Linked DNA regions of Homo sapiens: region 2 is linked to region 1. A link means that fine-mapping ties the variant in region 1 to the expression of a gene that starts in the linked region. Tissue or cell type: whole blood. Region 1 holds a variant in brackets; the other region holds the start of a gene. All regions are shown on one strand. Distances are between the middles of the regions.

The links. PIP is the estimated chance that this variant, and not a neighbour inherited with it, causes the effect.
Region 2: MYO7A starts here. The variant in region 1 is fine-mapped to the expression of MYO7A in whole blood (TOPMed, PIP above 0.99). The same link has a PIP of 0.9 or more in blood mononuclear cells, lung, monocytes, tibial artery, tibial nerve and transverse colon.

The regions. Positions count from the first base shown.
Region 1 is chr11:77,173,220-77,179,366 of GRCh38, reverse strand. MYO7A (myosin VIIA) reads right to left here. Exons shown (of 49, transcript NM_000260.4): 17 at 4,453-4,611; 18 at 3,903-3,995; 19 at 1,724-1,818; 20 at 238-322. Among named protein-coding and RNA genes, the nearest start is that of MYO7A, 48 kb to the right of the region's middle. The variant C/T (reference allele first, on the strand shown) is at 3,273.
Region 2 is chr11:77,125,784-77,131,368 of GRCh38, reverse strand. It overlaps MYO7A (myosin VIIA), which reads right to left and starts at 3,123. Exons shown (of 49, transcript NM_000260.4): 1 at 2,880-3,123; 2 at 717-780. The coding sequence starts at 734. It overlaps CAPN5 (calpain 5), which reads right to left. Exons shown (of 13, transcript NM_004055.5): 13 at 5,214-5,585. RefSeq lists enhancers at 1-99, 1,545-2,268, 2,991-3,714, 3,715-4,437.

The DNA of each region.
Region 1 (6,147 bases):
CCAACCCCCAAAAACACTCCAGAAGGAGAGCAACAAACATTGCTGGCCAGTTGGAAGAAGCCACAAGAGCCAGATCCAGACTTCGGTCTGGAGGAATGGTAGTGGCTGGCCAGGGCAGTGGCAGGAGGCCAACGAGGCCAGGCTGTGCTGCCTGGGTGCAGGCCAGTCCCACTGCCATGGCAGCAAGGCTGGGTTCAAAGGCCTGTTTGGGCAAGAGCAGCCCATGGGGAGGCTCACCAGCCCGTAGTTCTTCCTACAGTTGTGACCCCGCCAGTGCCTCTGGATCAGTGTGGCAGCGTTCTTCAGCTTCAGAAAGTTAGACCTGAAACAGCAGTAGTGGCGCGGGTGAGCAGTGTCCAGAGGCAGCCAGGGTACAGGTGGGTTTGGGATCAGGAGGGCACGCTGAGTCCCAGCTCTGTGACTTCCTAGCTATATGACCTTGGGCAAGGCACATAACTTCTGTGCCTCAGCTTCCTCATCCGTACAATGTGTAGAATAATGCCTGCCCTGCCTGCCCCACAGGCCTGTCACATAAGCCCATGAAGGTAGACATTCAAAAGGTATTTGTTGAATGAATAAATGTATGAAAAAATAAGTAATTAAAATAATATAAAGATCAAAAGCTTTGAACAGTCTAACTTCCTCAGTTTATACATGAGGCAACTGAGACTTGATAGGTTGGGACTAGAGCCCATGTCTTCTGACTGACCCTAAGTGAGCCCAGTGCTGTTCCCCCTGCACACAGCAGGCTGCTTCTATAGGAGAACAGTCATCTTCAGCCTGATAGAGGACAGAGACCATGCACAGACAGCAGGGGTCTGCTGAATGTAGAAATAAATAAAGGAAGAGCGAAGGATGGGTGTGCAAGTATGCAAGTGAGCCAATAAGTCAATGCTTGGAGACACACATAAGCAAATGAGCAACTGTGGGAGTGGGTGGGTGAATGGATGAATGGAGGAATGAATGGGTAGGTGGATGGGTGGGTGGACTGATGAGTGAATGGATGGGTGGGTGGGTGGATGGATGGATGGTGGATGGGTTGGTGGGTGAATTGATGGATGAATGTGTGGGTGGATAGGTGGATGGATGAGTGACTAGGTGGGTGTGTGGGCGGGTGGATGGATGGATGGATGGATGGGTGAATAGGTGGGCAGATGGATGGATGGATGGATGGGTAGGTGGGTGGGTGAACGGACGGATGGATAGGTAGGTGGGTGGACGAGTGGAAGAAGGGAGAGAGTGACCATATGAACTGCAAAGGGGTGCATTGTGGAATTTTTGCAGAGCTTTAATCACACTTTGGAGTCAGTCCTGCACATTTGTGAATTGTCACGTGTACACATATCCCTTAGATAGAATATGAGACACATTTTGTATTAATAATTTATAAAATCTCAAATTTCCTCTTTGCAAAATTTCATCAGCATCTGACATGAACAGTGGGTCCACATGTGAGTCTCATGTATCTACGTGTGCATGTGCATATGTAGGTGAATGTATTGCATTATTTGGCTTACGTGGCACAATGGGTCCATGTAAATCATGTATCTATGTTCCTCTGTGTTTACATGATCATGTGTGCATGCCATGCATGTGTGCACTTGTTTCATAGGTGAACACGTTTTTTTCCTAGTGTTCATGCGGGCAGAGCAGAGGAGAGCCAAACACCACACGTACACCTGTATGTGGGCTGAGGAGGGGAGGAGCTGGTGGGAACACGCACCTGTCTTTGAATCCCCGGATGACTTTCTGAAGGAGGATGACTCTGTCGGTGATGGCTTTGTCCCGCTCCACTTCCAGCAGCATGTCATGGTGGTCCTAGGAGGCAGAGCTCCTGAGCAGCGCCCCACAAGGTCTCCTCTAGGACCACCTGCTCAGTCCCAGTGGGGGCTGCTCTTCCTTCACTGGGAGCACAGGTCAAGAACTCAGTTGGGCCCCATGAGCTCCCAGCTGGCTCTGGCCCCTGGGGCAGCCTCCCACAGCCACCAGGACAGACAGGGGTTGTGGCTGTTTCCCAGAGGTCCAGGCAGGACAAATGGAGCAGAAGGTGCCTAATCTCTCTGGATGGGGTCGGAAGGCCCAGTATGCACACACACCAGCTTCTTCCCTATCGTCAATCTGCCCAAGCCCCCTGCTTCTAGACGTCCCTGTCACATCAGTCCCTCACCTGGGCTGGGCTGTTGCCATTCTTCTCCCGAACCTTGGCAGCAGCCTCCTAACTAAAGGTCTCGCGGCCTCCTGGCTCCCTCTCTGGCGCTCCTTCACAAGCAGCCAGAGGGACCCTCCTCAACACAACCTGGATGGTGACCCTACAGTGACACCTCATGGTTCCCCACGTCGAGCCTGGGTTCCTCACCCTGGCATTCAAGGCCACCCATGATCCAGGGTGTCTGCCAACTTTTTCAGCCCTCTCTCCTCCTCATCCAAGACCCCAACCCTCACTGTAGTTGGACAAAACTTCATTGGTTCACTTAATATATATGAATTGAACACCTCCATGTGCTGGCACTGTGCTAGATGCTGGGGAGGGGAGGGGCTGCCACAATGAACCAGGGAGACATGGCCCCTGCCCTTGGGGAGGGTAGAGTCTCATGAGGGAGCCAAATCCATCAGATAATCACAGACACACAGGGCCCTGACAGAGGAGATGCTCAGCCGAGGCATTCTGAATGAATGAATGGATGAATGAGCATGTTTGGCCTCTCAAAACCAAGGCCATATCGGAAGAGCCTAGCAGTGTAAGTCAGGGGCTGATGGAGCTCCTCCGAGTTCCCTGGTACTAGATGCCATCATGATTCCTGCCTTCCCCACTTTGCCCACACAGGGGCTGGGCATCAGACCTTCCCAGACTAGAAGTCCTGCTCCCTGCTTCCTAGCTGCCTGGTTTCAGGCAACTCACTTCTCTCTGAGCCTGTGAAATGGGTATAATATTTCCTTCTCCACAGGACTGTTTCAAGGATTAAATGAGCTCATGGATGAAAAGCACCCACCCAGGGCCTGGCACATGGAATGTGCTTTCTGGCTGACAGCTGTGGGAGGCACAGGCAGGGAACATTCATCACATCTTGCTGATGAGGAAATGCAGGTGCAAGGAGAGAAAGGGCCTAGCCTGAAGCCCCTTGGCTGGAGAGGAATTAGAAGAGGCCGCAGGCTCCCTCCAGTTCGGAGCTGGTTCTTGTCCCTCCTGCAGCTGTCCTTGGAGTGCCCAGGCCCCACCCCCCACACCAGAGGAAGGAGCCCTGTCATCCGGGACAGCCAGAAATCTAGCACAG[C/T]GGAAATGCAAATGGGGAAGCCCAGCACTGGGAGCTCGCACTGTCCCTGCTGCGGCTGCCCTGCCACTGCCAGCTCCCAGCCATGTCTCCAAGGCTGTGACTCCGCGACTCCCGCAGGCCTTGCTTCCTGCTTCCTTCCCCAGCTGCCCAGGCAGCAATGGGAGCTGAGCTCCCTACAGAGTGACGGACAGGTGGCATGCTGCGGACCCCAGCACGGGATGGGCCCTGCCAGGCAGGAAACCACAGGAAGGAACCTAAAGATACACTCAAGAGACCCCACACAGGCACACCCCAATTTACAGATGGGAAAATGAGGCTCAGAAAGGGCCCCAAGGCAAGCAGCACCCCTGCCTCCCTGCTGTGGGCCTAACAGCCAGCCCGCCCCTGGCATGTGCTTTGTAACCTGTGGTCAGTGCTCTGACCCCACTCCCAGGTTGTAGATGATCTCAAACACCAAATTACCCTTCCCCACCAGAGAGGCCAGATCCCACCTGCTCCTCCAGCCACACCACAGCCCGGCAGAAAGGATCTCAAAGCCCCAGCACTGCCTCCCTCTCCCGAGCACCCCAGCCCACATCATGGGAATTTACAGCCCCCCCAGGGCAGCCCAGGGAAGGCATCTGTGCTCACCTTCAGAAAGATCTTGGTTTTGCCTATCTGCCAGTCATCGTGGGTGCCCAGCACAGCCTCAGCCATGCGCTGGCAAGTCCCGCGGAGGTCGCCCTGGAGTGAGGATGGGGAACACAAGGGAATGGACAGCCTCTCCAGTGGGAAGGCCTCCGGAGTGTCCCCGAGGCTGAGAGGCAGGGCTCTTCCCGAGCTCTGCCCCTGACTCGAAGTGTGACCTCAGCTGGGTCCTGCCTTCTCTGAGCCCCAGTTTTCTCCTTAGCTCAGCTGGATGGTATGATTGCAAAACCCTTTCTCACAACTGACATCCAGGGCCCGCGTGGCAGCCCTGGTCTTGTTCCTTACACCACCATGTGTGAAGTCCTCACCAGCTGAACATGGCAACTGAAGCCCACTGATGCATTCCAATACCTGAACCCCAATTTTCCGTGCTGCACCTGAGAGGTCAAGCAGATGTCAAGCCCCGCCCATGGTCCTGATAAGAAAATTGGGACCCTTGCCCAGCCAAAGCTGGGACCCTCCCCTCCTGCCCTCTGTGCACTCAGCCCTGTACCTGCTTGTAGGCCGGCTTCACACCTGGCAGCAGCACACGGTACCGCTCCACAAACTCTACGAAGCTGTAGCGGATGGGGTAGCCAGCTCGGCGGATTCGGATGGTCTCCATCATTCCTGAGTACCGCAGCTGGCGCACGCACAGGTGCCGGTCGAACAGCTGCCAGGCACACAGCCAAGGGCATCAGGGCCAAGGCTCCTGCTGGGAGGCAGCCCTGCTGTGCACTTGACCAACCCAGACAAAGGCTCAGAAAGGCCAAGTCCACACGGCATGGGAGGAGCAAAGCTGGGACAGGCACCGGGATCTGCAGCTCAAATCCACAAAAGAGCATAAAGTGAGGCCTGTCGTGGTGGAGCTGTGTGCTTTGGGAGCACAGAGAAGACAGATTAATTCCCCTTGGGACACCCAAGTGGGGAGCTTCATGGAGGAGGCGTCTTTATCACCCTAACCCTGACAGGAGGGGGAGTATTCCAAGGCTGGAGGGGGTGAGCCTGTGCAAAGGTTTGGAAGCCTGAAAGCGCAGGACTTTGCTGGGAATCTTGAGGGAGCTAGAGAGGCTCGTCCAGGCCAAGTTATGGCTGTGCAGGTGAGGGGTGCTCTGCACAGCCCCAGGGAGGACCTTTCACGTTGCAGGTATTGTAGATCTGCGGTTATTCAGACAACTTTCTAGCTGCCTTAAGGAAGAGGCACATTTTTCAAAGGGCCCTGGGGTTTGGTTGGTGGAGGGGCTGGGGAGAAAGAGTAGAAGGCAGGTGCTGGGCTGTGAGGCTGTGGGGCTCTGTGAGGGCCTCATCCATGGATGCTGGAAGCCAGGGAAGTTTTAGAGCAGGGAGAGACTGGGCCAGGTCTGCATTTGAGAACAATGTCACTGGGGGCCAGGGGAGGCAGGACAGGAGGCAAGGGAGGCAGGAGACCCTTGAGGAGGCTATTGCCAAGGCCCAGTCCACAGATGCTGAGGACTGGGCCGAGGGAAGGGTCCCACTTCAGAGCCAGGGAAGACTGTGCCCGACTGCCCTGGTGTCAGTCCCCTGCACCCCCTGCATTAGAGGGAGAGCTCACTGGAGCCCTCTGCGACCCTCAGGCCCCTGCAGACCTGAGTCCTAAAGGGGACAGGCCTCATCCACTCTGGGACATGTTTTCCAGGCAGGAGGCAGCAGGAGGGGACGGTCTTGCAGCCTGTCAGCTTCCGGAGACTGTTTCCTCTCTCTCCGGGCCACTTTCCCCGGCCTTCCTTCCCTCCCCAGATCCCGAGGCCCCAGCTTCCCCCTGTGCCTCCCTGCAGGCCTCTGGGTAAACAACCCTCCCAGAGCCTGTGCTGCGAAAGGAGAGGGCTCGCAGCGAGGTGGCCCCAGCCTGAGCCCCTTAACCTCCCTGAGCCCCCAGTCCCGCATCTCTAACCTGGGACCAGCACAGTCCCTTTCTCACGGGCTGTTTGAGAAGGTTGAAGGAGGCTGTGGACTGACCATCCAGCCTATGCTGGGCACACAGAAAGGGCCCAACAAATGTTATTCAGAAAAGTCAAGAATGAGGATATCCCAACCAGCTGAAGAGATGGGGGAGGCTTCCAGGAGGAGGTGGTGGTTGAGCTGGGCCAAAGGAGAAGGGGACTTTCAAAGAAGCAGCCCCAGCAAGAACCACAGCTGCCAATCACTGGGCACTTGCTGGGTGTGGGCATCTGCAAGCATTACTGCATGG
Region 2 (5,585 bases), 48 kb after region 1:
GGCCAGGCAAGGCTGAGCCATTGGCCTCTGGTGACCCTGGAGACCGAGAAGCTGCTGGCCAAGCCCCCATAATGCACAGCCCCACAAGCCCTACGGCCTGCTGCCAGGCCCACCTGGCTCAGGGCCCACATTCCTGGCTCCTGCTCTGGAGGCCAGGAGCTCATTAGAGCCTCAGACTGATCACGGGGAAGGGCTGAGGGTCAGAGGCCACTGTGGCCCTCAGTAGGAAGGGGGGCTGGAGGACTCAGCTCGGGCCAGCACCTCTGCTTCTTCCCATAAAATCCCAGGGGGCTCCAGCTCAAGCCTTGTCACCCCCCGCCCTCCAGTCACTGCTCCCCAAGGCCCTAAGAATAAGTTGGGCTCAGGGCCCTTCCTGGCCTGGCTTTGGGAGCCTTGCCAACCTCCTCTCCTCTTCCCCAGGGACCTTCCCACACCTGGGCCTTTGCACATGCTGTTCCACTGCCTGGGATCCAGAGATGTGTGTAAATAAACTCATTTCTGCCCAGTGGGGTGAGCCAGTGAGAGAAGGAAACCCCAGCTGGCACAGCAGAGGGAACAGGTTTCAGACTAGGCCTCAGCCTGGAGGGCTGGGTTTGGAAGCCTAGGCAGGAATTTTCCAAGAGAACACCCTGGGGAGGGTGTCCCACGGGTAAGCATATGGATGAGGGGATATGGCCTGGGGAGGACAGGCCACCCAAAGAGGTGGGAACACTGACCTGCTGAAGAATCACCATGGTCCCAAGTCAGGAGCTCCTGCTGCCCACTGGGCCAGGCACAGTTCTGCAGGGAGAGAGACCATGTCATGCTTCTGGGCAGGCCAGCCCTGGAAGCCTTGAGCCTGGCTGGGGTCACCTGGGCTCCTCCCAAAGCCCCAGCTCCTCCTCCCTCAAGGGAACCCTCCTTGGCTTCTCTCCCTCTGACCACTGCCCAGCCTGTGTGACCTGAGCCTCAGCCACTGTCACCAGCACCACTGCCCAGAGCAGCTGAATTCTTCTCTCAGCCACTGTCATTCAGAGATTCCCAAAGGGCTCCTAGAAAGTAGCAAGTCTGGCCCCACCAGGGACCTACGGCAAAGGGGCCCAGAGAGGGACCAAGACTTGCCCAGGGTCACACAGCTAGCCAGAGCAAATTTAGGACTAGGACTTAATCTCCGGCACTCAGCTTAGGGACTGCCCCAGGAATGTGGGTGACAAGGACAAGCCTGACTGAGCAGAAGGTCAAGGGCTGGGCATGACCTGCTCACAGCACACCCTGCCTGAAACCTCTCAAGAGCACCCACTGCCCTCAGGATGGCTCTGTGCAGAGCACTGGCTGCTGACGGGGAGGCAGGGTCATTGGGGTCTGTCTCTGGCTGTGCTGCTGAATGCACCGCACCTGGGCCTGGGCCCGGGCCCGGGCCCGCCCCGCTAGGCCCAGCACAATCTGGCCCCTGCTGATGCCTCGGTCTTTTCTCTCACTGCTCACTCCCTTTCCTACCCTTATACTTGGACATCCTCAGTGACTCACTGTTCCTGAAATACGCCAGCTCTTGCCATCTCCTGGCCTTCACACACTGGCCCTTCTACCTGAAATTTTGACTAGTGAATTTCCACTTATGGTTCATGGCTCAGTTCAGATGATACCTCCTCCAGGAAGCCTTCCCTGACCACTCCCAAGCTGCCAAGAGCCTCTATATTCCCCTTTATCCCATTTTGACTATATGCATTATGTTGTCAGGGTAAGGGTCAGTCCCACCTCTGCCCCCAAAGTTGGCGAGTTGATCCAGGGCAGGATGTGGCCAATGGGAGAGGGTCTGAGACATTGCCTTGTCTCCAGCCTTGTCCAGCACAGGGCCAGACCCAGAGACGGCCTCAGGAAGGAGCTTAAAAGGCAGCCCCAGCCTACAGACCCTGGTATGAGGCCCCTCTGGCTCCCAACCTGTCTCCTAGAATGCGCATCAATTTTTCACAAGGGCCCATTCAGAGCCGCCGGGGCATTCGATCCTCTGCCCATGACACTGCCCGACATCCGAGCCCTGACCCCTGCCCTGGAGCTCTGGGACACAGCAAACCCACAGTCCTTCCAGAGACCTGAACTAGTCTGGATGCCTGGTGGAGATGTGGATTCAACAGGGCCAGCAGGCAGTTGCCACCGGGCACTTGTCTGAAGATGGTGCCCAGGCTGTGGAGCAGGCGCCCTATGCCAGCATGAGCCATGAGGGCTGGGGGCAGAGCCAGTGCTTTCACTAGAGACATGGGGCTCCAAGGGATGGGGGAGAGTGGTGAGGGCGTGAAATTTAAGGGCCACATTTTAAAATGACCAGACAGACATTTCATTTCTAAAAATGAGAACTAGACCACCTTCAAGTTAATTTCTTTTCCAACTGACAACAGGGGGCATAGACTGTATTTGTATTTCTATGTCTATACCTGATTTTACCTCTTCCCCACTACAACCCTGGCTGTTGGGGCTTCATACTCCCATTTCACAGATGGGATATTTGGGGCATAGAGGAAGGAAGTGACTTATCCAAAAACGGAGATAAAGAGTGTCAGAGAGAAAGCAAAGGAGACAGAGAGAACGGACTCTTCTCTCTGCCACCACAGCATGTCTATTCCCCTGGCCCCAGGATGCCACTAACCCCAGCCCCAGCTCAGAGAAGATTCGATGGACAACATGCTCCTTGGCTCTTCCCTCCTCCAGGGGACACACATCCATCTTCCCAGGCTCGGGACAGTTTCATTCAGTGGCTGTGGTGGCTGAGCCCTCAAGGGTGGCAGGAAGCCCAGTCCCAGGAGCAAGTGGCTGTGGGGCAGAGGCTCTAGAGGTAGCTCAAGTCCATGACTCCTCCACATCCAAACCCCTCCCAATGCCCAGGACAGTGGGCAGCCCATCCTTACCTGGGGCCCAGCTGCCCACTCTCAGTGACCTGCCAGCCTGGTACAGCTGCCACCTGCACGGAGGACTCAGGAAGCTGGGTCACGGGCCCAGCCAGTCTGCAAACACACGTCCCCTCTTCCTCTGTCTGGCTCCAAGTCTCGTTCTAGGCGTCCCTCTGGGTCTTTCCCTTCCTCGCCGTCTCTCTGTGTGTGTCTCTTGTCTCTCCCTCTCTCTCCTGCCCAGAGCAGCTGTCCAGCCAGCACTGCTGCCCTCCCCTCCTCACTCCAGAGCCTTCTCCCAGGAGGCGGAGCCGGAGGGGGCCTCCAAGGTCTGGGTGCGGTGACATCAGCGTGGGGGACGGGCCGTGCTGGGGCTGGGACTAATGTCCAGAGGCTGCTCAGGGCTCTGTGCAGAGCACTGGCTGCCGACAGGGAGGCGGGGTCATTGGGGTCTGTCTCTGGCTGTGCTGCTGAATGCACCGCACCTGGGCGTGGGCCCCCCAGGCTAGCTTCAGGTGCCTCCTGTTGTTTGCAGGACACCGCCTGCTGTCTCAGCACCTGAGCAGGAAACCGCACCTGATCCTGACTTAATCACTGATGTGCTGGGGTCTCAGCCCCATTTCTTCCTCCTCTACCTGGCTGTTTGGGACTCAGAGAGGGAACGGTCAGGCAGAGCATGGCAGGAGGGAGAGTGCTGAGCTAAAGCCCTGCCTTCTGCGCCTTCTCCCTCCTGCACACCCACCCTTGCCTCTGATGTGTGTTCTCTGACGCTGGTCAATGCAACATTGCCCCCACAACCTGCTCTGCGGGTTGGGGACACATGTTATTCCGTAATCATCCAGAAACTTTGCCAAACCAGCTGACTGGGAGCCACCCCACGTGTGACAGCGACACAGATAAACTGAAGTGAAATCTGTGATTTAAAGGAGTGGGGGGAACCAAGCAAAGAGGAGCACACGTCTTTGTTATTAGCGTTGTCGAGGATGGAGACCTCGCGCGGCCCTATCGGGACATGACAGTTTCTCCTTTCCGCCCTCGGCAGCCACGCAGCTGTCGGCGGCCCCATAGTGCACCTCGCCAGGGCAGCTCTGGGTGGCAGAAGGATGTCTCTTTTGGGTCCCTAGCCCCCATAACTGGGGTGTCTGCAGGGAAGCTGCCCAGAAGGTGGGGTGGGGGCCCAAAGGGGCGCTATAGCTCGCCAGCGCCGCCTGCTGGTCACAGGCCCCACTGCCCAGCTGCTTCCGTCAGGCGGGCTGAGCACCGCTGGGAAGTGACCGTGACAGGAGTCAGCTTCTGCTAGGGCCTGGGTCCCCTCAGACCCGACGACCCTGTCCCAGGAAGACCCCAGGATGCCGTCTGCCCCTTAGCCTGCTGGCCTAACAGGAGTCCAGGAGTCCCTGGAACACAGTCCCCACCTGGGATTTGCACCTGCTGCCGAAACCCAGTACTGGCCACTCCTCAAGTCCCCCCTCTCCATCCTCCCAGGCTGGGCGGGGCCAGTGGCGTCAGCCCTACACGGATGGGGAAATGAGACCCCGGGGGAGCACAGGAGAGCCCATGGCACACGACTGGCAGCAGGGACAAAATGCAGTGAGCTGTGGGAATGGGGCAGAGAGGTGGGCAGGTTATGGGGGACAGGGCGGCCTCCAAACACCAGGATGACAGCTACATTGTGTTCAGCCATGCTATGAACCAGGCACTATGCTAAGCAGATCACACGATTTGCAATACCCATTTCTCAGTCCCATGAAGAAAGCGAGGCATCTCGGTTCACTTTGCCCTCACACTGCACTCACCCCGTCTCCCAAGTCGTTTTTCATTGAGTCGTCCACTCTGCTTTCAGTCATCCCAACCCTGCTTCTCCCCACCACCACACCAGCTTCCTGGCCCTAGATGCCTGCATCTGCCCTCAGCAGCCTCCGCTCTGGTCCCCCCACACCTTCCTGTGCCCCGAAGGCCCATCTCCTCTTCCCAGCCCTTCATGCACAGATCAGGGAGTAGGCCGTCTCTAACCCAGCAGGCCCACACTGCCCCATCAGTAATGTGCGGGGTAGTGTCTGTCATGACCAGAGTATGTCTTTGTTCTCGCTGCTCGTTTGTAGACTGTCCCAGAGCAGGGATTGCTATGCCTGGTTCCCCACATCCCAGGTGCCCGGGGCAGGCCTTGGCACAAAGCCAGCCCCGTACAGATCTACTGAATAAAGGAATGACTGAATGATCCCCACAATCTCAGCTCACAGGTGCACCGGGCAGGCAGCGGGGCCTTCCCTCTGACCAGCGGACAGTCGCCCAGGCCTGGGGAATATTCCTCCATTGTCCCTTCCCCCCAGGGGGACAGAGGGACACAGGAAAGTCTTTTTGGAATTTTGTAAGATTTATTGAGAATAGAACAGGCTTCCTGTCCCCTAACCCTGTGGTGGATCCTGAGAAGAGGGAAGCCTAGGTCTGGGTGGTGTGGGCTGGAGGCCCTACCCACCTGCAAATGGGGACTCCCAGGCCCCCGCGGGTGCATACAGTGAACAAAGTAATTGCTCTCCCCTATCACCCCTGATCCTTACCTGCCTGGCCCCCAAGGTCTCCTGGGGACCAGAGATCCCTGCATAGCCAGGAGCCAGCCTGGCCCACCTCAAGGGGCAGGAAGCAAGGGTAGCACTGTGGAACCTGTTTTTGTCAGGGGGTGGCAGGCATGCCCCGGCCCCGAGGCTGAAGCCCACAGGTCTGCCACTT